Homo sapiens: one gene and its partners. The protein of the gene in region 6 interacts with the protein of the main gene of each other region in a biochemical or structural test. Each region holds a gene or a part of one and is shown on either strand. Other genes may lie near its edges. The genes, in order: DOCK4, MAP2K2, LRP1, RASSF6, ITGA5 and GIPC1.

Region 1 (3,500 bases), on a different chromosome or scaffold from region 6:
CTTATATACCCTGAACACGTGCTTTTTGATGGTTACACATGTTACAAAATCTTCTATGTTCTTGCTTATCTTCCCTTCTCTTTGTCTTTGATGAATGTTCAGTCTTCATATTCTAGGATTTTTCAGTGTTGGTTTAAGATGATCCAAGTGACCTTTAAAAACTCTAATTTGTTTCCTTGCCTGAATGAACCAATATTTAAATATGCTAATTGTAGTCCTGAATTACTTGATTGCTGAGAGCTTGGCAGACCTTCTCTTCAAGGCAATAGCAGTCCCAATGACATACATTTGAAGAGCACTTTTATCATTTTCACAATTAGGTCCTCCATACAGCCTGGAATTTTTAAGTCATTATGATTCTATTTGGCTCTCCAACAAATAGATCCTGCAGTATATATTATCTTGTTTTCTATAATTCCCAACTGTGTGCCATCCTGTGCCACCTTATGGTGCTGTTATATATATATATGAGGTTCATGTGGCATATGTCCCATCTTCCCAACTGGGCTGAAAGCTCCTTGACATCAGAGGATCCATAAATGCATCTTTATATCTCCCATGGTGCTTTGTATCAAATAAGCATGAGAAAGGGGATAATATTCAGGGTCTCTGAATATTTAACCCTTCAAAAGAAAAAAAAAACTAGTTTTAAAAGACATGAGATGCTTGGATATTATTTTAAGGATTAAATTGGTTGTTGCAGTGCTAATGTAGAATTGATGATTATCCAAACCACATTTCAATGAATAAGTATAATTACCTGCCCTTTCCAAACCTTGCTAATGAACATCCCACTTGACTTCCACATCCTTGTCTATTCTACGGAATGGCCCCTGGTAGAGATATTGATGGAAGCCAAGGGGGAGCACAGATAATTCAGAACATGGATAAACTACTTTGTCTTTCTTCTTGAATGTCACAAATTCAATATATATTTATGTTCATTTGCTTCTCAGGTAGAAATGAGTCCTCTGGAAAATGCAATTGAAGTGCTAGAAAATAAGAATCAGCAGCTGAAGACTCTGATTAGTCAGTGTCAGACAAGACAGATGCAGAATATTAATCCCCTGACTATGTGCCTGAATGGAGTTATAGATGCTGCAGTTAATGGTGGCGTTTCCAGGTATCAAGAGGTAAGGATTAGGTATTGTTGTTTCAGAGAAAGTTTTCAATTGTGACTTCTTAGGGTTTCATGAATCTTTTTTCAGACTATGTACCCATATCAGCACGCAAACATAGGGCTGCGATTGACACAGAGTCCTTTGTTAAATAGAGCAAACATACAGTCATTTGTAATTGCCCAGTAACTCCATTTTCCCAACATGTTATATTTGGATAATAAAAATGTGTGTGTGTGTGTTCATTCTTGCATGAATAAAAGTAGAAAGGACATTAGGACTGTTTAATAAATATCCGTCTAAAATAATTTCTCTAAGCAAAGAAGTTCATGGGCATAGAAAAGTCTGATCTGGGCTGGGCTCAGTGGCTCACACCTGTAATCCCAGCACTTTGGTTTGAGACCAGCTTGAGCAACATAGGAAGATCTTATCTCTTATTTAAAAAAAAAAAAAAAAAAAAAAAAAAAGATAAGACCGATCTTGCTTAGATGATACTTTAAGTGGACCTTTCATCTGCTCTCTTAAACAGAAAGATATAATACCCTGGAAGGTAAGGCCACCATCTAGGTCACACTGAATCTTAAGGCAGTTTGTTTTAGGATACAAGCCATATAGCTTACTGATTTGGGCTTGTTCTTTATTTTAGCAAGGGTACTTATTGTACAATCACTGATCTTCCTTTAACAATTCTTTCCTTATGTTCCCATTCTGACCAACCACCTACACTAGTAATCAGCCCATCTGTCCCAAAATGTGGTTTGTAATGGTGTCATTTCCATAAAGATGCCAGGTCTTTAAAAACAACTTGTCTTTGACTTGCCTTGTACTCCACTAAAGTAGACTGATTCTCCTTTCCCTTACTAGGCATTCTTTGTCAAAGAATATATCTTAAGTCACCCTGAAGATGGGGAGAAAATTGCACGATTAAGAGAGCTGATGCTTGAGCAGGTAAGGGAAGCAGAAGCCAACCCCCTTCTATTTTGCCTGGATATGTGCTTGCTTACCTAGAGCCCCCTCTGCATGGTTTCCTGCATCAGTGGTCTAACAGAAGCTGGCAAGCAAGGGTGACAGATTCCTGTAATATATCCCAGCTTGCTAATTTCTACTTCTTCTTCCCACTCCGATGCAAAAATTAATTTAACAATGAGTAGACTATGGCAGCCAGTTACAGGTTGAGTATCCTTTATCCAAAATACTTGGGACCATAAGTGTTTCAGATTTTGAAATATTTGCATATACATAAGAGATATCTTGGGGGAGGGACCCAAGTCAAATAACAAAATTTATTATTTCATATATATCTTATACACATAGCCTGAAGGTCATTTTATATAATATTTTAATAATTTTGTGCATGAAGTTTCGACTGCAACCCATCACGTGAGGTTGGGTGTGGAATTTTCCACTTGTGGGATGTTGGCATTCAAAAGGCTTCAAATTTTGGAGGATTTCTGATTTTCAGTTTTTGTATTAGGGATGTTCAACCTGTGAAACAAACAACTTCATGTGGTCTCTTAAAACATTCTTTGAATGTTCTCTTCCTAGAGACTTGCTGTAGGCTTGATGCCAACTTTTTTTTTTTTTTTTTTTTTTTTTTTAAGACGGAGTCTCCCTCTGTCACCCAGGCTGGAGTGCAGTGGCATGATCTCTGCTCACTGCAAGCTCCGCCTCCTGGGTTCACGCCATTCTCCTGCCTCAGCCTCCCAAGTAGCTGGGACCACAAGTGCCCGCCACCACACCTGGCTAATTTTTTTTGCATTTTTAGTAGAGACGGGGTTTCACTGTGTTAGCCAGGATGGTCTCGATCTCCTGACCTTGTGATCCACCCGCCTCAGCCTCCCAAAGTGCTGGGATTACAGGCGTGAGCCACCGCGCCTGGCCGATGCCAACTTTTCACTCAAAATTCTGTGCTCAGAAAAGTTCAGGCCAACTCCAAATATGAGGCATGAATGAAATTTTTACTTAAGCATTGTAATAAGGAAGTGGGCAATCAGTAGATCTTGCTTTAAAGCAGTGTCATATTTTGCAAAGTAAACCTATAGGTTACATGATATGGACAAAACTACATACAACTCATCATTTTCTACCCCCAGAGAAGCGTGGTTTATTTATTTGGAACCATCAAGTACAAAGAACTGGAATGAGTAATCTGTTGCCTACTGTGTCCCTATTGATAGCCTGAAATGGTTTGAAAACCTCTGAGGTAGGAGACATGGTTGGAAGCCTGTGTTAAACAGGAAATAAAGACATTTGCTTCCTGTGAAAAGTGGAATATGTGTGATGAAACATGACAAAGGCATTTCTTTCTACCCAATAATGCCAAATTAATAAGTAAAGCATGCTCTTTGGATTAGAAAATGAGGTCGTGTCTGGTTTTCATCC
Region 2 (3,500 bases), about 10 Mb from region 6:
GTAGTCCCAGCTACTCGGGAGGCTGAGGCAGGAGAATGGTGTGAATCCGGGAGGCGGAGCTTGCAGTGAGCGGAGATGGCGCCACTGCACTCCAGCCTGGGTGAGAGTGTGAGACTGTGTCTCAAAAAACAACAACAACAACAAAAACAAAAACCAAATTACCCAGCTGTGGTGGCACATGCCTGTAGCCCCAGCTGCTTGGAAGGCTGAGGCAGGAGAATTGCTCCCGGGTGGGAGGCGGAGGTTGCAATGAGCCAAGATTGTGCCATTGCACTCCAGCCTGGGTGACAGAGCAAGACTCTGTCTCAAAAAAAAAAAAAAAAAAAAAAAAAAGAAAGAAACCTGGTAGGCACTGCTAGAGACAAAAACCTAAGAGAGAATTCCAACAGGAAGGGGAGATCTGGCCGGGCGTGGTGGCTCAGGCTCACTGCTAGTGGAATCCCAGCACTTTGGGAGGCTGAGGAAAGAAGGTCACTTGAGTCCAGGAGTTCATGAGCAGCCTGGGCAATACAGCGAGACCCCGTGTCTACAAAAGATTAGTAAATTAACAAATAAAAAATAAAGAGCAAGGGGAATCCGAAAAGCAGGCTCCCAGGAGGCACCAGCTTTAGACGTGCCTTGTGGCAAGTGGGGAGAGCTGATGAAGGGGAGGGTGCAGCTGGGGTGGGACTGTCCCGGGGGTGCTAACAGCCATGTAGGAGTGTGTGCCCACGAAATAGTTGGGAAAGCCTCGTGGGAGGCGGGGAGAGCTGCGCAGGAGAACTGGGAGGGACAGCTGCGCAGGAGACATGGGGGTGAGAGCTGAGGGGGAGAGCTGGCTGGCAGAGCTGGGTGGGGAGAGCTTGGGGGAGAGCAGCAGGGAGGAGAGCTGGAGGGGAGAGCCAGCGGGGACTCACAGCCATGTAGGAGCGCGTGCCCACGAAGGAGTTGGCCATGGAGTCGATGAGCTGGCCGCTCACCCCGAAGTCACACAGCTTGATCTCCCCTCTAGAGTTCACGAGGATGTTGGAGGGCTTCACATCTGGAGGCGGCAGGCTGCGGGTGAGGGGCGCCCAACAGTTGCCTGCCGGCCCCCGGGGCTCTGGGGAGGGCGGGCTGGGCCTTACCTCGGTGCATGATCTGGTGCTTCTCTCGGAGGTACGCCAAGCCCCGGAGAACCTGCAGGGGAGCGCGGAGGGAGTCACGGGACAAGGCCACCAGGGCTTAGCTCCTGACCGAGCCCGGGGGTCAGAGCTGAGCAGTCAGAGCTGGAGCGAGGGAGCTGCGGCAGGAACCATTTCAGGCTGTGAGGAGCTCGCTGGGGTGGAGCAAGCGAGGCCAGAGACGAGACAGTGCTGACAGCCCTGTGCTGGCGTGTGCAAGTCAACCCCGGTTCCCATGGCCGCAGTGCCGCCGATGCCACTACTGCCTTTGATTCAGAGCACACGGCTTAGCCCCAGGGAAGCTGAGATGGTGGCCCATGGCCCGGGAGTAGGCTGGGCTGCCGAGTTTGCCCACATCAGCCTGAAAGGCAGCATCTGGGGTCCCAGGGACTGTGCTAAGGGCCCCCAGATGGGACGGGCTAAGGGTGCCTGGGAAGGACGATGTTTCCCCCAGGCCCGCCCTGGAAGCAGCATCCCGAGAAGTGAAGCAAGCAGCACAGGCAGTGTGACGGCAGCTTTCAACTCGGAAACGCGTGTCTGGCAGCATGCGTCCTGTGTCTTAATCCAACACTGGTATGGGCAGGCGGGACTCGGCCCCTGCTATGGACAAGGTGCAAGCTCCAAGAAGCAACACGCACGGTCTGCTGAAACCACACGGCTCTACGGAGCAGCTGTGCTGGAGACCGGGCAGCAGAGACGCCCTTGGCCCCGGTGACATTTCTAACAGCAATGGTGAGTGTGTCTGGAGGTCCTGGCGTCCCACATCCCACCCCAGAGTCTCCCTTTCAACAAGCTCCTGTCCCCTGCAACGTGCCAGCTGCCAACATCCCCCTGCCACGAGGGGCAGAGGGGACCAGTGTGGCAAACAGAGGATACTAAGAGTGAAGAGGGACCTATAACGTCTTCACTTGGCAGATGGTGACCTCAGGCCCCAAAAGGGACGTCACTTGTTCAAGCTCCACAGCAGGTGGGCACAGCCTTGGCCACTCTCTTTCTGCAGGGGCCACCCTAACCCCCACCACACTGTGAGTGGCTCCCGGAACCCTGGCCGTGTGGAAGAGGTCCGTGCAGAGTGCGGTGGGGGCGCGATGTGGGTCTGCGGTGGACTCACCGCGATGCTGACTTTCCCCAGGATCTCCTCGGGAATCCTCTTGGCCTCTTTCAGCACCTGGTCCAGGGAGCCGCCGTCCTAGAGGGCACACAAGGAGTGAGTGCAGGCTCTGCGCAGGTGGCCGGGAAGCCACGGATGCGTCCCCCCACTCCCGGCGAGGGGGTGGTCTGCCTCCTGACGGGAAGCAGGGGCCGGAGCCCAACTCCACCCACGGGCCAAGGGCAGGGCGTCTTCTGACAGTTCTGCCTTTGGGTCTGAACACCCACCCACAAGGTGGGGAAGGAACAGGGCCCAGGGTTCCCCCGCCTCCCGTCCCATCCTCGAATCAGTTGCGTGACTCGGCCCTCCTGAGGTCGCCACGGCAGAGGCTCTGCTCCGGGCCAGCCCAAGCCGCGGCCGGGGGCTCAGGCAGCTGTGGGGCCCGCACTCCCTGCAGCCTACGTGGTGGGCTTGTCTGTGCGCCACGGGAGGCGGCCAGGCTGGAGACCAGCGTCTTGGGCCTGCGTCCTCTTCCCAGCACACGAAGGGAAGGGGAGGGTGAGGGCGCGGAGGAGACGCGGGTGCTGCCCCGCGTGGGAGGAGGCGGCGGGTCGCTGTGTGCCCGTCCAGACCCCCAGGGGGCTCCCTCGCCAAGCCCTGCGGCTCCACTGCTGGGCGTCTGCCCTGCGCCTGTCCCTGCCACCTAGGGCAGAAAGGCCAGGCCGAGTAGGACCAGGGGCCAGGGGGTGCATGGACTGCAGGAGGGATCCCAGTGACGCCAGCCCAGGTGACGGTAACCTCGGCCCCTCCCCACAGCCTGTGGTCTCCTCGCCACTGTGCCGGGCATCCTGCGGAGGGCCTGGAAACGAGTCATCATGGGTAGGCTGGTCCCCGGGTGTGGCCCCACATCCATGTCATAAATGATGAAACAGAAATTCCATGTCTTGCCCAAGGCTGCCTGGCAACAAACCTGGGGACCAAAACCCCCAAATGCCAAAACCCCAGGCACTGGGAGCCACCCAAGGTGCCTCTTCAGAGGCAGAGGCTCCGGACACACCTGCCAGGCCACCCCCAGGACAGCAGGGGTGACAGGCCAAGTTCCCACTGCCACCGTCTGGCGTGCGTCTCTTCTGTGCTCAGCAGAGAGGAAAGTGGAACTGAGGCTAGAGAGGGCGGGCTGGAGGAGCCTGGAGAGGCTGGCTGGGGAGCCTGGATTTCCCCACCATGCTGCTCCAGGACTCCTGCAAAAGCCCAGCCTTCCCTGGGAT
Region 3 (3,500 bases), on a different chromosome or scaffold from region 6:
AGAGAATGAGGGCCCTCCCTTACACCTGCCACTCCAGTTCACCATCACTGTCTTCTCTCTCTTCCAAGCCCTGGCCTTGGTCCTGCCAGCAACTTCTTCGGAGGAAGGAACAGTTTATCCCCAGTTTTGGTGCTTTTTGTTTTCTGGATCTCTATGTCTCTATATCATGCATGATGATTTTTATGAGCAAAGCAAGTTACACCCAATATAATTTGTGTTGCCCATCTACTAAAGTTATTTGAGAGCCTCTCAAAGCTGTGGGGAGATTCTGCCTGCCCTGCTTCCGTGTCATCTCCCACCACCGGCCCACCACCACCTCTGACACTCACGGCAGTCCCTCTCATCCTCCCCATCTCCGCAGTTGTCCTGCCCATTGCAGCGGAAGATGCCGGGAATACAGCGGTTGGTGTTGGTGCATTTGAACTGACTGGGCAAGCAGACGTGGATGTCTGTGGAGGGAGGAGGAGGTGATTCGTGGCGAAGGGAGGACTCAGGGGCAGGGAGAGGGTGCCCATCCCTCAGCAGGGAGGACACAGGCTTGAGCCATAGGAATCCAGCCTGGAGAGCAAGCTGCCGTGGGCTGCAACTTCCCTGCACTTGAAAGCCCCAAATCCTGGGGCAGGGAAGATGCTGGGGAAGGAGGGAGGGTGGGCGGGCAGCGCCTTACCACAGTTGGCCTCGTCACTGTTGTCCTGGCAGTCATTGTCGCCATCGCAGATGAAGGCAGGGTTTGTGCAGATACCTGTGGAGCACTGGAACTGTCCGGGCCGGCACTTGAACTCAGCTGCCAGAGAGGGAGGCTCAGAGTCAGAGCGGCTGGGGTGGACACGGCCAGGTCCACTTGCAGGGCACCACAGCCCCAGCCTCTCCAGTGGCCATTCAAAGCCTCAGGAGTCAGGCCTCCGACACAGCTGGGGGCCCTCCTGTCACCCCCAGCAGGCACTCACGGCAGTCCGGGGGCTCGTCTGAGTGGTCCCCGCAGTCGTCCTCGGTGTCACACTTCCACCAGAAGGGGATGCACTTGTCGTTCTTGCATACAAACTGGAGGGCAGGTGGGGGCAAGAGGGGTTGGTGGGGGTCTGGGGGACTCAGAAGTCTTTCTTTTGAGGGGCTTGGATGTTTCAAAGAAGTTGAGGCAGGGGTCAGGGTGTTATGGGGCAGGTTGGGCTATGGTGAGTTCGGAAAGGCCAGGTATGGGGCTGCGTGGGATAGGGTGGGGAAGGCAGCACTGAAGCATGGCAAGGAGGGTCAAGGTTAGGGTGTGGAGGTGTCTGTGTGAGGTGACGGGGGTAAAAGTATTGCTGTGGGGAGACAAGAGGTAGGCAAGAAATGTGGGGGTGTTAGTGTGGGAAAACCAGATGCATGAGGACATTAGGACAGAGCAGGTGTTGGGGTCCAAGGAGGATTTGGGGGTTGGGGAGCGGGCACTGGTGATGGGGTCTGGGGGACAGCCTCACCTGGCTAGCCGTGCAGTTGGACACACAGGTGCGCCCATCGCTGCCCAGGTAGAAGTTGGTGGGGCAGGCACATTTGTGCCCTCCCCCGGGGGACAGCAGGCACAGGTTGCTGCAGCCACCATTGTTGACCTTGCAGGGGTGATTGGGCACTGCCAGAGAAAACGTCGTGAAATATGGTGACATTTTCTGGCCTACCAAAGGCTGCCTCACTCACTCTATCCTGGACAGAGGCGGGTGGGTCTGAACCCTGCCTCTTTTAGGAGGGAGCTGAAGCTGGAGATAGGAGAGGATTCTAAGGTCCCAGGATCAGGCCAGGCCTGAAGGCCAGCTCCCCACCTCCTCTGTGCTTCCCTCCCAGGGGCCGGCCTGCCTTCCTTCTGGGGGCTGGGCACCCAGACCCCCACTTGACTGGCCTCAGGGACTTGCTGCTGCCAGACTCCAGGGCTGGATCCAGGCCGGGCTGAAGCTCCCGGGAGCCAGACCATCCCCTGTCTAGACCCTCCTGGAGTCTCCCAGTGTCTGGCCAGGAGGGCTTGGTCAATGCTAGAGAAGGGATGAGCAGGAACTCCCAGGGACCCCGGTGCCTGGCTCACCGTTCGCCTGCTCCCACCCCTTGCCTGCTCACCGTCTGGCTGGCGCAGGGCATGGAAGACATGCAGGTCCATGGGCCGGTGCAGCGTGCTGATGAGGAGCGTTTTGTTGGTGCCCGTGGTCTTGTGGGCTCGGTTAATGGACTTTGTTTCCCAGTCGGTCCAGTAGACGTAGTCCTCAAACAGGGTCAGTGCAAAGATGTGCGGGATGTCCTGGCTCAGCACTGCAGGGCCAAGGGGCAGGCACAGTGCCAGTCAGCCGGAGCTCGGACAGGGTGCCGGCCCACTCCACCTCCTCAAGCCCTACCACCACCCTGAGAGGTGGGTGTCAGCCCCAGTTACAGATGGTTCATGGTACAGACCCCCCATGGTCTCACAGCTAACAAGTGTCAGAGCTGGAGTTCAAACCTAGACTGCCTCATGGCAAGTTCCTGCCCTGCCAGTGTATGGCTCCCCTCGGGAAGTGGGGAGCACTGCAGTTCTCAATCGCAGGCCTCCCACCCCCACCCTCCTTGGGGCCAGTCCTCCAGAACTGTGTATACAAGGGAAGGGCCTCTCCTCTTCCTTCCCAAGGGAGCTGGGTGGTGGCCAGGCTGGGGAAGCCCCCGGGGTGCTCTGAACCCCACACCCCAGTGAGTGGTGTCCTCAGGCCATATCCTCCGCTTTTTATGTCCACTCTTGCCCCCAAAACTTGATCCCCTGTCGCTTCAGACCTCCATCCCCACTGAGTCTGCTGTGCCTGGACAGCCTCACTGGCACACTGACCAACGTGGCGATTGGAGCCATCCAGGCTGGCAAATTCAATGTAGTCCTCGCGGGCGTCGGCCCAGTAGATGCGCTCAGTGACATAGTCCAGCGTCAGGCCATTGGGCCATGTGATCTTGGTGTCCACGATGACGCTGCGGCTGGACCCATCCATGCCGATGCGGCCGATCAGTGAATGGTCACCCCAGTCTGTCCAGTACAGGTACCTGGCGATGGGTAGGCAGTGAGCCCTGGGAGATCCCGTAACCCATCGCACCAGTGGCCTGCAGGGAGGCTGGGCTTGGATGCTGCTTTCAGGGGCTCCCCCAACCCTCCTCAGCCACATACCCATTCTGCACATCCACCACCAGAGCCCTGGGCTCACGGAGGCCAGAGCTGACCAGCACCGTCCGATAGGCCCCATTGAGCTTGGACACCTCGATGGTGTCCCGGCCTTTGTCGCACCAGTACAGGTTGCCACCCACCCAGTCCACAGCCAGCCCATCGGGGTTGCTGAGGCCTGTACGGTGTAGGACCTGCAGGAAGGGGCAGGGGAGGGAGAGCTCTGGGTGACCTGGGGGAGGACCTGCAAGCCTCTGTGAGGCTCAGCCTCCCCTCGTGTAAAATGGGGTAGAGCTCCCTCTGACAGCTCTGGTGGGAGAACCATGGAAGTAAAATGCCCAGTCCTGGGCCTGACACTGTGTAGGTG
Region 4 (3,500 bases), on a different chromosome or scaffold from region 6:
ATTTCCCCAATCCCCCACCAGGTAATCTATCTCAATGGTTTTGTATTTATCACTCCATACCTTTCTCCCTAGTCATAAGACCATATATACCACATACTTAAATGGGAGCTTGTAACTGTTTAAAAAATGGGATCTTTTATATATACCTTTAGGCATCTTGCATTTCTCACTTAAAATATATTATGGAACTCCCTCCATTCTATTGGCATAAATCTACTCATTCCATTCAATGGCAGCCTAACAATCACTTATTTAATCATTTCCCTAGGATGAGTAACTTTGTCTTTAGCTTTTTGTCCTTATAAACAGTGTTACACATAAATCTGTAGGCACTAGTGCTTATATTTTTGTGGGATAGATTCTCACAAATGGAATGGTCAAGTTAAAGGACATATATACTGTAAATTTTAATAAATATTGCAAGAATAAATTCCAATAAGAAGAAAGTCATATTTTCACTAGTGTTGCATAAAAATATCTTTTTACCCTGATGCATGCCAGCCATGGGTAGAATCATTTTAAAGCATTTTGCCAATCTGAGAAGTGCAAGATAATATTACGGTGTGGCTTGAGCTTGCATTTCCTTAGCTACTTGCATTTCACTGAATTTAAGACTTTTCTAAAACTATTTAACTGGTTATTATGGTTTTTCCTTTCAATTGTATTTTCATGCTTTTTTCTATTTTTATCGGATTGTCTGTTGTTTTGTTACCATTTTGTAGGAAATTATTGGTATTATAGTTATTAATCTTTGGAGTACATTGACAATATTCTTTGTAATCTACTATTTGTATCTTTTAAATTGTTACACAGTCCAGTATTGCTACCATTTATTTTATATCTTTTGGTTTTCTTTCTTTCCTAAACAACTAGAATATGAATATATATGTGTCCTTAGAATTTTCCAAAAAATAGATCTTTATTTTATTTTATTTTATTTTTATTATTATTATACTTTAAGTTTTAGGGTACATGTGCACAATGTGCAGGTTAGTTACATATCTATACATGTGCCATGCTGGTGTGCTGCACCCACTAACTCGTCATCTAGCATTAGGTGTATCTCCTAATGCTATCCCTCCCCCCTCCCCCGACCCCACAACAGTCCCCAGAGTGTGATGTTCCCCTTCCTGTGTCCATGTGTTCTCATTGTTCAATTCCCACCTATGAGTGAGAATATGCGGTGTTTGGTTTTTTGTTCTTGCGATAGTTTACTAAGAATGATGATTTCCAATTTCATCCATGTCCCTACAAAGGACATGAACTCATCATTTTTTATGGATGCATAGTATTCCATGGTGTATATGTGCCACATTTTCTTAATCCAGTCTATCATTGTTGGACATTTGGGTTGCTTCCAAGTCTTTGCTATTGTGAATAATGCCGCAATAAACATACGTGTGCATGTGTCTTTATAGCAGCATGATTTATAGTCCTTTGGGTATATACCCAGTAATGGGATGGCTGGGTCAAATGGTATTTCTAGTTCTAGATCCCTGAGGAATCGCCACACTGACTTCCACAATGGTTGAACTAGTTTACAGTCCCACAAACAGTGTAAAAGTGTTCCTATTTCTCCACATCCTCTCCAGTACCTGTTGTTTCCTGACTTTTTAATGATTGCCATTCTAACTGGTGTGAGATGGTATCTCATTGTGGTTTTGATTTGCATTTCTCTGATGGCCAGTGATGGTGAGCATTTTTTCATGTGTTTTTTGGCTGCATAAATGTCTTCTTTTGAGAAGTGTCTATTCATGTCCTTTGCCCACTTTTTGATGGGGTTGTTTGTTTTTTTCTTGTAAATTTGTTTGAGTTCATTGTAGATTCTGGATATTAGCTCTTTGTCAGATGAGTAGGTTGCGAAAATTTCCTCCCATTTTGTAGGTTGCCTGTTCACTCTGATGGTAGTTTCTTTTGCTGTGCAGAAGCTCTTTAGTTTAATGAGATCCCATTTGTCAATTTTGGCTTTTGTTGCCATTGCTTTTGGTGTTTTAGACATGAAGTCCTTGCCCATGCCTATGTCCTGAATGGTAATGCCTAGGTTTTCTTCTAGGGTTTTTATGGTTTTAGGTCTAACGTTTAAGTCTTTAATTATAGATCTTTAAGCTTTCAATTATAAGAACTTTAATTTTATATATGTTTAGAGATACAGCTTTCATTTTCTTAAGGTGTTCTGGCATCAAAATGTATTATTTTATTCTAATAAATTTCTGGCTTGAACATTCTGACACTTAAATTATAGCATGAGTTTTTTCTACAAATTGATATATAAAATTTTTCATTTGTGAAGTTTTAAAAACTTTCATTTCAGTATCACTTTAAGTTTTCTCTATTCTCTCTATTATGCTCCTAGCATCCCACTTACAGCGCCTTCCCAATGTTCTGCTTCTAACCTTTCACCCCTCACCACGAAGTTCTGAATATGCATCTCTACTGAGGAAGAGATAGCACTCCCGCAATGTGTCAGACCCTGTGCTAAAAAAGAGGCAATATCAATGTCAGAGAGAACAGGTATGCAATCATGACTCCTCTAAGAGCAACACTCAGAAAGGAAAGCCAAAAAGAAAGTTACAGAGGTGAGCAAAGACAAAAGTGCCGAAACAGTTCCAGAGGGTTTTGATCTCCATTTAGATAATTTAATGTCTGGCCAACAAGCAAACTCTTTCATATAATCAACCCTTCAGGGATACCTTATTCTTAAGTTATCTTTCTTTAAAATTGTGGACTATAGATAATGTTCTAAAGACCACTCCTTCCTTTTCTCCTACCCATTCCTCCCCTTTCTCCACAGAATGAGGCAAACTGTTCTTCTGCCTTCCCCCTGGGCAGCAAACTGTAGCACTCTAGAGTCAGGTAAAAAGTGTGATCAAGCTTTCTTACCTCCTGTTGCAAAAATAATGTGAAGAGCAAAATCCTGGGGACTATTTTCAATCTGTCAAGGGAAAAAATGAACAAATATAAATTCTTTGTTGTTATATGATGTTTTCTAACCTGACCAGACCCAAATCATGTCTGTTTTCTCTCTTCCATTTTTCACTTTTAGACATAAAATCTTCTCTGCTCTTATGGGAATTATATAATTTTTCAAGGGATAGTTACTAAAAGGTGTTATACAAAGGAAAGAATCTTTCAGTGCTCAACATCCAATTTAGATTTACACCTTTATAGATCTGTTTCAGAAGAGTGGATTTGTGTGTTTATAGTTGAATTATATATAATATATTTATAGCTCAGTTAAGTGATAAAGGTTACCTTAAATTTTTGGAGAAGTTGCTTTATTACTTCTTCAGTTCTCATGTTACTGTTTACTCTGACCTTAGTTTCTGATTCAAAGGCTGGAATGAAAATTGATGTCTAGAAAAAGAATTGTCACATAAGTCTTTAAAATTATATTATATTAAGGGTATTCAATATCTTGAACATAATCTTCTTATAGGGCAAAAAAAATCCAAGGTCATTAATTTAAAAAATTTGTTTTGTTTTTGTTTGTTTTTCTTTGT
Region 5 (3,500 bases), on a different chromosome or scaffold from region 6:
ATTCTGGGCATGGAAAGTGAGGTTCAGGGCATTCTTGTCACCCAGGTACACATGGTTCTGCTCCCTGGAAGGGACACAGAGGGTAAGGGACATTGGTGAATTAATCCTCAAACCAGGACAAAGGACCATTATAAGAGTAGTAATACGAGGCCGGGTGTGGTGGCTCACACCTGTAATCCCAGCACTTTGGGAGGCTGAGGCGGGTGGATCACGAGGTCAGGAGTTCAAGACAAGCCTGGCCAAGATGATGAAACCCTGTCTCTACTAAAAATAATAATAAAAAAATTAGCCCGGCATGGTGGCAGGCACCTGTAATCCCAGCTACTTGGGACGCTGAGGCAGAGAATCGCTTGAACCTGGGAGGCGGAGGTTGCAGTGAGCCGAGATTGCGCCACTGCACTCCAGCCTGGGTGACAAGGGCATGACTCCGTCTCAAAAAAAAAAAAAGAGTAATAATAAAGTAACAATAGACACTGCTTACTGAGTTCTAACTCTATGGCAGGCACTAGGCTAGATTTTTTATGTAGATTATTTCATTTAATCTTTCCAAAAAGTCTGAGAAATAAATGCTACTATTCCCACTATACAGACAAAGGAGTTAAAGCTCAGAGCAGCTCAGCAACTTCCCAAGGCGACACAGCTAGTATGTCCCTAGCTGATTTTTTCAGGTGCCAGGTGCACCTGGAGCTCCCTAGCTTACCGTCAGCCCTACTTACCCAAACACTTCCAGCTGCAGGTCAGGCACACAGATGTTGTCTTCTCCACAGTCCAGCAAGATCTGAGCCTGGGGAGCAGGGCAGCCTTGAGAGGGGAAGTTTAGACCCATTCCTGGGCTGTAGGCTCTTCTCTTTCCATGGCCCTGCCCCCCCAATACCCAGGCCTCTGTCTTCCCAGGTCCCTTCTCCCTGCCCTGTCCTCACCTTGTCCTCTATCCGGCTCTTGCTCTGATAATGTAGGGCTGGCCTGAGGCCGTGGCTGTCCACTGGGGCTTGGGGGTCCAAGGAGAAGTTGAGAGCGATGTGAATCGGCGAGAGTTTGTCTCGAAATTCTGACTCGTTCTGGGGCCAGAGGAGAGAGTTCACGGAGTCAGGGGACTCTGGAGACTTAGTGGCCCTGCTCCTCAGCCTCTCTCATCTCCCTTTGTCTGCTTAGGGCCCAATTCCGACCATCCTCATTGTTTCAGAGGCCCTGGCAGCCTGCTTCCCAGCTCCTCTGACAGAAGGTCTCCCTTTCTCAGCCCCTACAAGAGTCCCAAGCCCTTCACTGGAGTCCCCCAGTCTTTTTCCCTTCAGGAGGTGCCCTCAGTTCTGTGTGGCCACCCTCCCTGGCCAGTCCACACCCCGCCCTCTGGGCCATACCCTGAGGTAGATCTTCATCTCTCTGCAATCCTCTCGAGCCCCATTCTGGATGAGCAGGGTCTGGGTCAGGGTTGCCTGCCTGGAGGCCAGGAACAGTGCCCGCCGTACCCCTCCCTTCTGCTTCTGCCAGTCCAGCTGAAGTTCCACTGTGAAACCTGAAGCCAGGGACATATAAAGGGAAACTGCCTGTCTTTCCTCATCTTTTCAGAGAGAAGAAATGTCCCCAGGTCCCCAGTCCCTTCATTCTCTGTCCTAGGGCCTGAGAGATCCAGGCAGTCTCCCTCACCAATGGAGTCAGCAACGTGTTTTCCAGAAGCATTGAGGCAGAAGCTAAGGTTGATGCTGGAGAGAGACCAAGAAGAAAGCTGGTGAATCCAACTGGAACAGACATCCTATCCTCTACCTATCTCCCAGCCAGACCCAGACTAGGACACCACCATTTTCCCCTTTTTAAGGCAGACTTGGTGCCCCTGCCCACTCCCAGGCTCAGGTCTCTGCAATTTCCTGGGCACCAGCTCACCAGGCCACAGGGTTCCCCTCTAAGCTGCAGCTCCGCTCCTCTGGGTTGAACATGGCGGGGAAGATGGTGAGGGAGGCACTAGCGGACACGATGGGGCGGCCCCTGCCAAGAGTGAATGTGGGGTCAATAGAATTAGGACTCCTCTGTAACCTGGACACAGGAAACTGATGCCCAAGCGCCAGAATGTGTGTCCTCTGCATTGATTTTCCCAACCTCAGCTCTGTTGAGAAATTTCCAGTTCCAGTCCACCCAGGTTGTCCCCTCATCTCCCTTTGGAGCTCATACCTGTATACCACAGCCTTGTCCACACCAAAGGACCCCACAATCAGATCTGTAAGAAGTCAAGAAATCACCTCTTACAGCAAGCCCCAGATCAGGATCCTTTCTTCCTAACCCCTCCTGGTTTCAACGCTCAGGGAGGTTGAAGTGAGAAGACAGCGCCCTCTGTTGGAATTAGCCAGAACTGCACCCAGGAACTTAAGGAAAGGTGCAGAAGAGAGAGTAGGGGTCAGTGACCAGGGAATTTTAAGGTGAAAAGGGGCCTCAGGCACAACTCACCAGGATATCCATTGCCATCCAGGTCTCGGCCTCCTCGAAGGGCAGAGCCAAAGAAGTCTGGGGTGTGGCTGGCTGCCCACAGGGGCTGCAGAACCTGGGAAGGCTTAGAGCCCAGCCCTCCTGGGCCCCCAGGAAATACAAACACTACTCCCTGCTGGGTCTCCCCACCAAAGGGAGCCCCGATGGCCACATCTGGAAGACACAGAACACACACTAGTCAGCAGGCCAGGAATCCATGGGCTCTAATCTCTACTACCAGACCCCAGGACCTAGGATCCTATTTTTTCCCATCTGTCAGTCCCTATATTCTAATCTTCAAATCCCAAGACCCAGACAGTGGGATTTTAACCCCTCGGGAAGTCGTGGAGGTCTGGGTATCTTAGCTGACAGATGCCCTCTCCCCAAATCCCTTCTGACTTGGGCCCCTGCCTCCTCTTTCACTCTCTGAGCCCATGGTACTCACCATTGTAGCCATCCTGGTCCAGGTCCCCCAGGGGGGTCAAGGAGCTGCCAAATCGGCCAAACTCATCATGGCCAGTGAGGGTAAGGGTGGGCGTGGGCTCTATGCCGGCTGGGTGCTGCAGGTAGACGTAGACCCTGCCCACCTCCTGAGGCCGCCCGTCAGGGGTCCGATCCATGAGCAGGGGTGCCCCCACCAGCAAGTCATCCAGCCTGAGGGGAAGGGCAAACCCAGGCATCTCGATACCCTGTCTTGCCACCCCACCCCAATCCTAGTGCTAGAAATCCCGGACACTCTGAATTCCATCACGTCAGAAGACCTGAGGTCTCTGATCATCAGCTCTCAGCTCTTTCCTTGTCCCTGAGCAAGGGGAATGCAGGTATGAGCGAGAGTCTAGAGAAAAAGCCCTGGAGAAACTCTCCTTGCATTTTCTGTCCCATTCCCACTCTTCCCTCTTGGTTCTGGGAGGGTATCACAGTGCGCTCATTTCCCACCACTCACCCGTCCCCATTGACGTCTGTGGCGGCCACTGCATAGCCAAAGTAGGAGGCCATCTGGGGAGGACAAAGGGGCAGCGCTGGGTCAGAACTAGAAGGTTCAATCC
Region 6 (3,500 bases):
TTTGGCCTCCCAAAGCTCTGGCATGACAGGTATGGGCCACCGTGCCCGGCCTGTGACCTTCCTTAACCCTCACACCACACTGTAACACAGGGATCACGTTATGCTACAATTATGCCCATTGAACAGATGAGAAAATGGAGGCTGAAAGCGACTACGCTTCTATTTTCCTCTCAGCCACAGTCACTAACACTGTGTGCAAAAAATTTCTGACTCTCCCCCTTTGGACCAAACAGGTGGATGGCACTTCCTGGCCTCCTTGTGACTGGGCAGATAAATGATTATTTCTGGCAAATAGGTTGTGAGAGGAAGTGGCACATGACATTTCTGGGCTGAGGCATTTAAGTGCTGGAGCCTCCAGAGATCTATCTTTCCCAGGCAGGGTGATGAGCCACATTTGATATGGTGGCGACTCTATGAGGCCGGGCCCTGAATGACTACGGTGAATGGTGCCCCCTGCTGAGCCGCAATGGAAGTGTAGCAGGAAGAAAAAGCAAATCTTTGCTGAATTCAGCCACTAAGACTTTTGGGGTTGTTTTCTACACCACATACATTTTTTTTCTGTTTCTTTCTTGCTTTCTTTCTTTCTTTTTTTTTTTTTTTTTGAGACAGAGTCTTGCTCTGTCACCCAAGCAGCAGTGCAGTGGTGCGATCTCAGCTCACTGCAACCTCCGCCTCCTGGGTTCAAGCGATTCACCTGCCTCAACCTCCCAAGTAGCTGTGACTACAGAAGACTCCTGACCTCAAGTGATCCACCCGCCTCAGCCTCTTGAAGTGCTGGGATTACAGGCATGAGCCACCGCGCCCGGCCCGCTTCTTTATTTCTCTCTTTCTCCATTCTCCCCTCCCTTCAAACAATTTTTTTTTTCTTTTTAGTACTTACTGTATTCTGTGCACCATTTTAGATACTGTCTTCAATAAAAAAAGCAAGATCCCTGACTAGGGCCACCATGTTCAGTTACACAAGTTGTGTACTGTGCAAAATTACTAGACCAAGGTGGCAAGTAGGACTGAAATTCGGTCTGTGCACTGCCTGCCAAGCTATATTTCTTGGTGTGGTGTCTGCCAGGAGGAAGAGATGCCTTTCTTTTTTTCTTTTTTTTCTTTCTTTCTTTTTTTTTTTTTGAGACAGAGTCTGTTCTGTGTTGCCCAGGCTGGAGTGCAGTGGTGCAATCTTGGCTCACTGCAAGCTCCGCCTCCCAGGTTCCAGCAATTCTCCTGCCTCAGCCTCCCAGGTAGCTGGGACTACAGGTGCACGCCACCATGCCCGGCTAATTTTTTTTGTGTTTTTAGTAGAGACGGAGTTTCACTACGTTGGCCAGGCTGGTCTCGAACTCCTGACCTCGTGATTCGCTCGCCTCAGCCTCCCAAAGTGCTGGGATTACAGGCATGAGTCACTGCACCCGGCCGAAGAGATGTCTTTCTAATTCACTCACAGATGCTATATAGGCTAGCTGGGGCTCTGCACATGACCTCCAGAAGTGGACAGTCCGGAAGAGGAAATGCACAGGGAGCAGGGAAATGTGTAAATGTCTAATATAAATTTTTTCCTTTATTTTCCTTTTTTTTTTTGACAGAGTCTTGCTGTGTTGCCAAGGCTGAGGTGCAGTGGTGCAATCAGAGCTCACTGCACCCTTGCCCTCCTGGGCTCAAGTGATCCTCCCGCCCCAGCCTCTTGAGTAGCTGGGACCACAGGTGCTTGCCACCATGCCCTGCTAATTTTTTTATTTTTATTTTTTAGAGACAGGGTCTTGCTATGTTGTCCCGGCTGGTCTCAAACTCCTGGGCTCAAGTAATCCTCCTGCCATGGACTCCTAACGAGCTGGGATTATAGGCATGAGCCACTGTGCCCAGCCTCATATAATTTTTAATAGTGATATGGAGACAAAGCAAGACAAGTTCTATAGACAAGATCAGTGAGGGCGTCTCTGAGCACGTGAAGCTGAACTTGAGACCTGAACCACAGGAGGAAGCATTCATGCAATGATTTGGGGCAAGAACGTCCCAAGTAGAGAGAACAGCCAGTAGAAAGGCCCTGAGCTGGGGCTGGGCATGGTGGCTCAAGCCTGTAATCCCAGCACTTTGGGAGGTTGAGGTTGACGGATCACATGAGGTCAGCAGTTTGAGACCAGCCTGGCCTACATGGCAAAACCCCATCTCTACTAAAAATACAATACACAGGTGGGCGTGGTGGTGCACACCTGTGATCCCAGCTACTCGGGAAGCTGAGGTGGGAGAATCACTTGAATGCAGGAGGCGGAGGTTGCAGTGAGCCGAGATCACACCACTGCACTCCAGCCTGGGTGACAAACCGAGACTCCATCTCAAAAAAACAAAGAAAAGCCCTAGCCAGGCGCGGTGGCTCATGCCTGTAATCCCAGCACTTTGGAAGGCCAAGGCAGGCGGATCATGAGGTCAGGAGTTTGAGGCCAGCCTGACCAACATGGTGAAACCCCGTCTCTACTAAAAATACAAAAATTAGCCAGGTATGGTGGTGCATGCAAACCTCATCTCTACTAAAAACACAAAAATTAGCTGGGCGTAGTGGTGCATGCTTGTAATCCCAGCTACTCCTGAGGCTGAGGTTGCAGTGAGCTGAGATCACGCCATTGCACTCCAGCCTGGGCGACAGAGCGAGACTCGGTCTAAACAAAAAAAAAAAAAAGAAAGAAAAGCCAAGCCCTGAACTGGGCATGCAATTGGCATGTTTGAGGAACAGTGAGGAGGCCTGGGGGGTTGGAACAGTGAGTGAAGGGGGGATAGTGAGAACATGAGGGCAGGGAGGTAACAGGTTGCTATGTTTTCCTGATTTTTTTTTTTTAATGGGGTCTCACTCTGTCGTCCAGGCTGCAGTGGAGTGATGTGATCACAGCTCACTACAGCCTCAAATTCCTGGGCTCAAGCAATCCTCCTGTCTCAACCTCCTGAATAGCTGAGACTACAGGTGTTCACAGCCATGCCCAGCTAATTTTTATTTTTTGTAGAGACGGGTCTCACTACGTTGCCCAGATTGGTCCTGAACTCCTGGGCTCAAGCAATCCTCCCGCCTTGGCCTTCCAAAGTGCTGGGATTATAGGCATGAGCTACCACACCCAGCCTGCTATGGTTTGGATAAGGTTTGCCCCATTGAAACTCATGCTCGAACAATCGATTGGCTAACGAGGTCGATGACGCCAGGCACAAGATGCTGGGCCTACCGCGGTAGCGTGAGGGAAGCCGTGCGTTCTGTTCCAAGGCATCTGTGAGCCCATGGAGTATACACCATGAGCAAAGCTCACCCTCCTGAGTTGAAAAAATTTACGGACAAGAAGTTTTCATTGAAATTAAATGGTGGCAGACATGTCCAAGGAATATTGCGGGGATTTGATCCCTTTATGAACCTTGTGATAGATGAATGTGTGGAGATGGCGACTAGTGGACAACAGAAAAATATTGGAATGGTGGAAATACGAGGAAATAGTATCATCATGTTAGAAGCCTTGGAATGAGTATAAATAATGGCT

What was found.
Region 1: the proteins of GIPC1 (region 6) and DOCK4 interact in a test that uses a peptide from one of them, tested with the Homo sapiens proteins (one large-scale study listed by IntAct).
Region 2: the proteins of GIPC1 (region 6) and MAP2K2 interact in a test that uses a peptide from one of them, tested with the Homo sapiens proteins (one large-scale study listed by IntAct).
Region 3: the proteins of GIPC1 (region 6) and LRP1 form a complex in vitro, tested with the Homo sapiens proteins (one study listed by BioGRID).
Region 4: the proteins of GIPC1 (region 6) and RASSF6 interact in a test that uses a peptide from one of them, tested with the Homo sapiens proteins (one large-scale study listed by IntAct).
Region 5: the proteins of GIPC1 (region 6) and ITGA5 form a complex in vitro, tested with the Homo sapiens proteins (one study listed by BioGRID).

Annotation. Positions count from the first base shown.
Region 1 is NC_000007.14:111,744,900-111,748,399, reverse strand, and holds part of DOCK4 (dedicator of cytokinesis protein 4), read left to right. Parts: intron 1-956; coding exon 957-1,133; intron 1,134-1,982; coding exon 1,983-2,066; intron 2,067-3,500. UniProt on the Homo sapiens protein: Functions as a guanine nucleotide exchange factor (GEF) that promotes the exchange of GDP to GTP, converting inactive GDP-bound small GTPases into their active GTP-bound form. Involved in regulation of adherens junction between cells.
Region 2 is NC_000019.10:4,100,123-4,103,622, forward strand, and holds part of MAP2K2 (dual specificity mitogen-activated protein kinase kinase 2), read right to left. Parts: intron 3,085-3,500; exon of another isoform or gene 2,695-3,084; intron 2,332-2,694; coding exon 2,254-2,331; intron 1,159-2,253; coding exon 1,107-1,158; intron 1,022-1,106; coding exon 897-1,021; intron 1-896. UniProt on the Homo sapiens protein: Catalyzes the concomitant phosphorylation of a threonine and a tyrosine residue in a Thr-Glu-Tyr sequence located in MAP kinases. Activates the ERK1 and ERK2 MAP kinases.
Region 3 is NC_000012.12:57,197,983-57,201,482, reverse strand, and holds part of LRP1 (prolow-density lipoprotein receptor-related protein 1 preproprotein), read right to left. Parts: intron 3,328-3,500; coding exon 3,140-3,327; intron 3,019-3,139; coding exon 2,813-3,018; intron 2,272-2,812; coding exon 2,083-2,271; intron 1,607-2,082; coding exon 1,458-1,606; intron 1,042-1,457; coding exon 948-1,041; intron 785-947; coding exon 668-784; intron 450-667; coding exon 330-449; intron 1-329. UniProt on the Homo sapiens protein: Endocytic receptor involved in endocytosis and in phagocytosis of apoptotic cells. Required for early embryonic development. Involved in cellular lipid homeostasis.
Region 4 is NC_000004.12:73,578,937-73,582,436, forward strand, and holds part of RASSF6 (ras association domain-containing protein 6), read right to left. Parts: intron 3,355-3,500; coding exon 3,253-3,354; intron 2,933-3,252; coding exon 2,881-2,932; intron 1-2,880.
Region 5 is NC_000012.12:54,402,267-54,405,766, forward strand, and holds part of ITGA5 (integrin alpha-5 precursor), read right to left. Parts: intron 3,451-3,500; coding exon 3,398-3,450; intron 3,109-3,397; coding exon 2,900-3,108; intron 2,629-2,899; coding exon 2,437-2,628; intron 2,308-2,436; exon of another isoform or gene 2,232-2,307; intron 2,210-2,231; coding exon 2,164-2,209; intron 1,981-2,163; coding exon 1,879-1,980; intron 1,701-1,878; coding exon 1,645-1,700; intron 1,514-1,644; coding exon 1,359-1,513; intron 1,059-1,358; coding exon 921-1,058; intron 785-920; coding exon 717-784; intron 65-716; coding exon 1-64.
Region 6 is NC_000019.10:14,486,128-14,489,627, forward strand, and holds part of GIPC1 (PDZ domain-containing protein GIPC1), read right to left. Parts: intron 1-3,500. UniProt on the Homo sapiens protein: May be involved in G protein-linked signaling.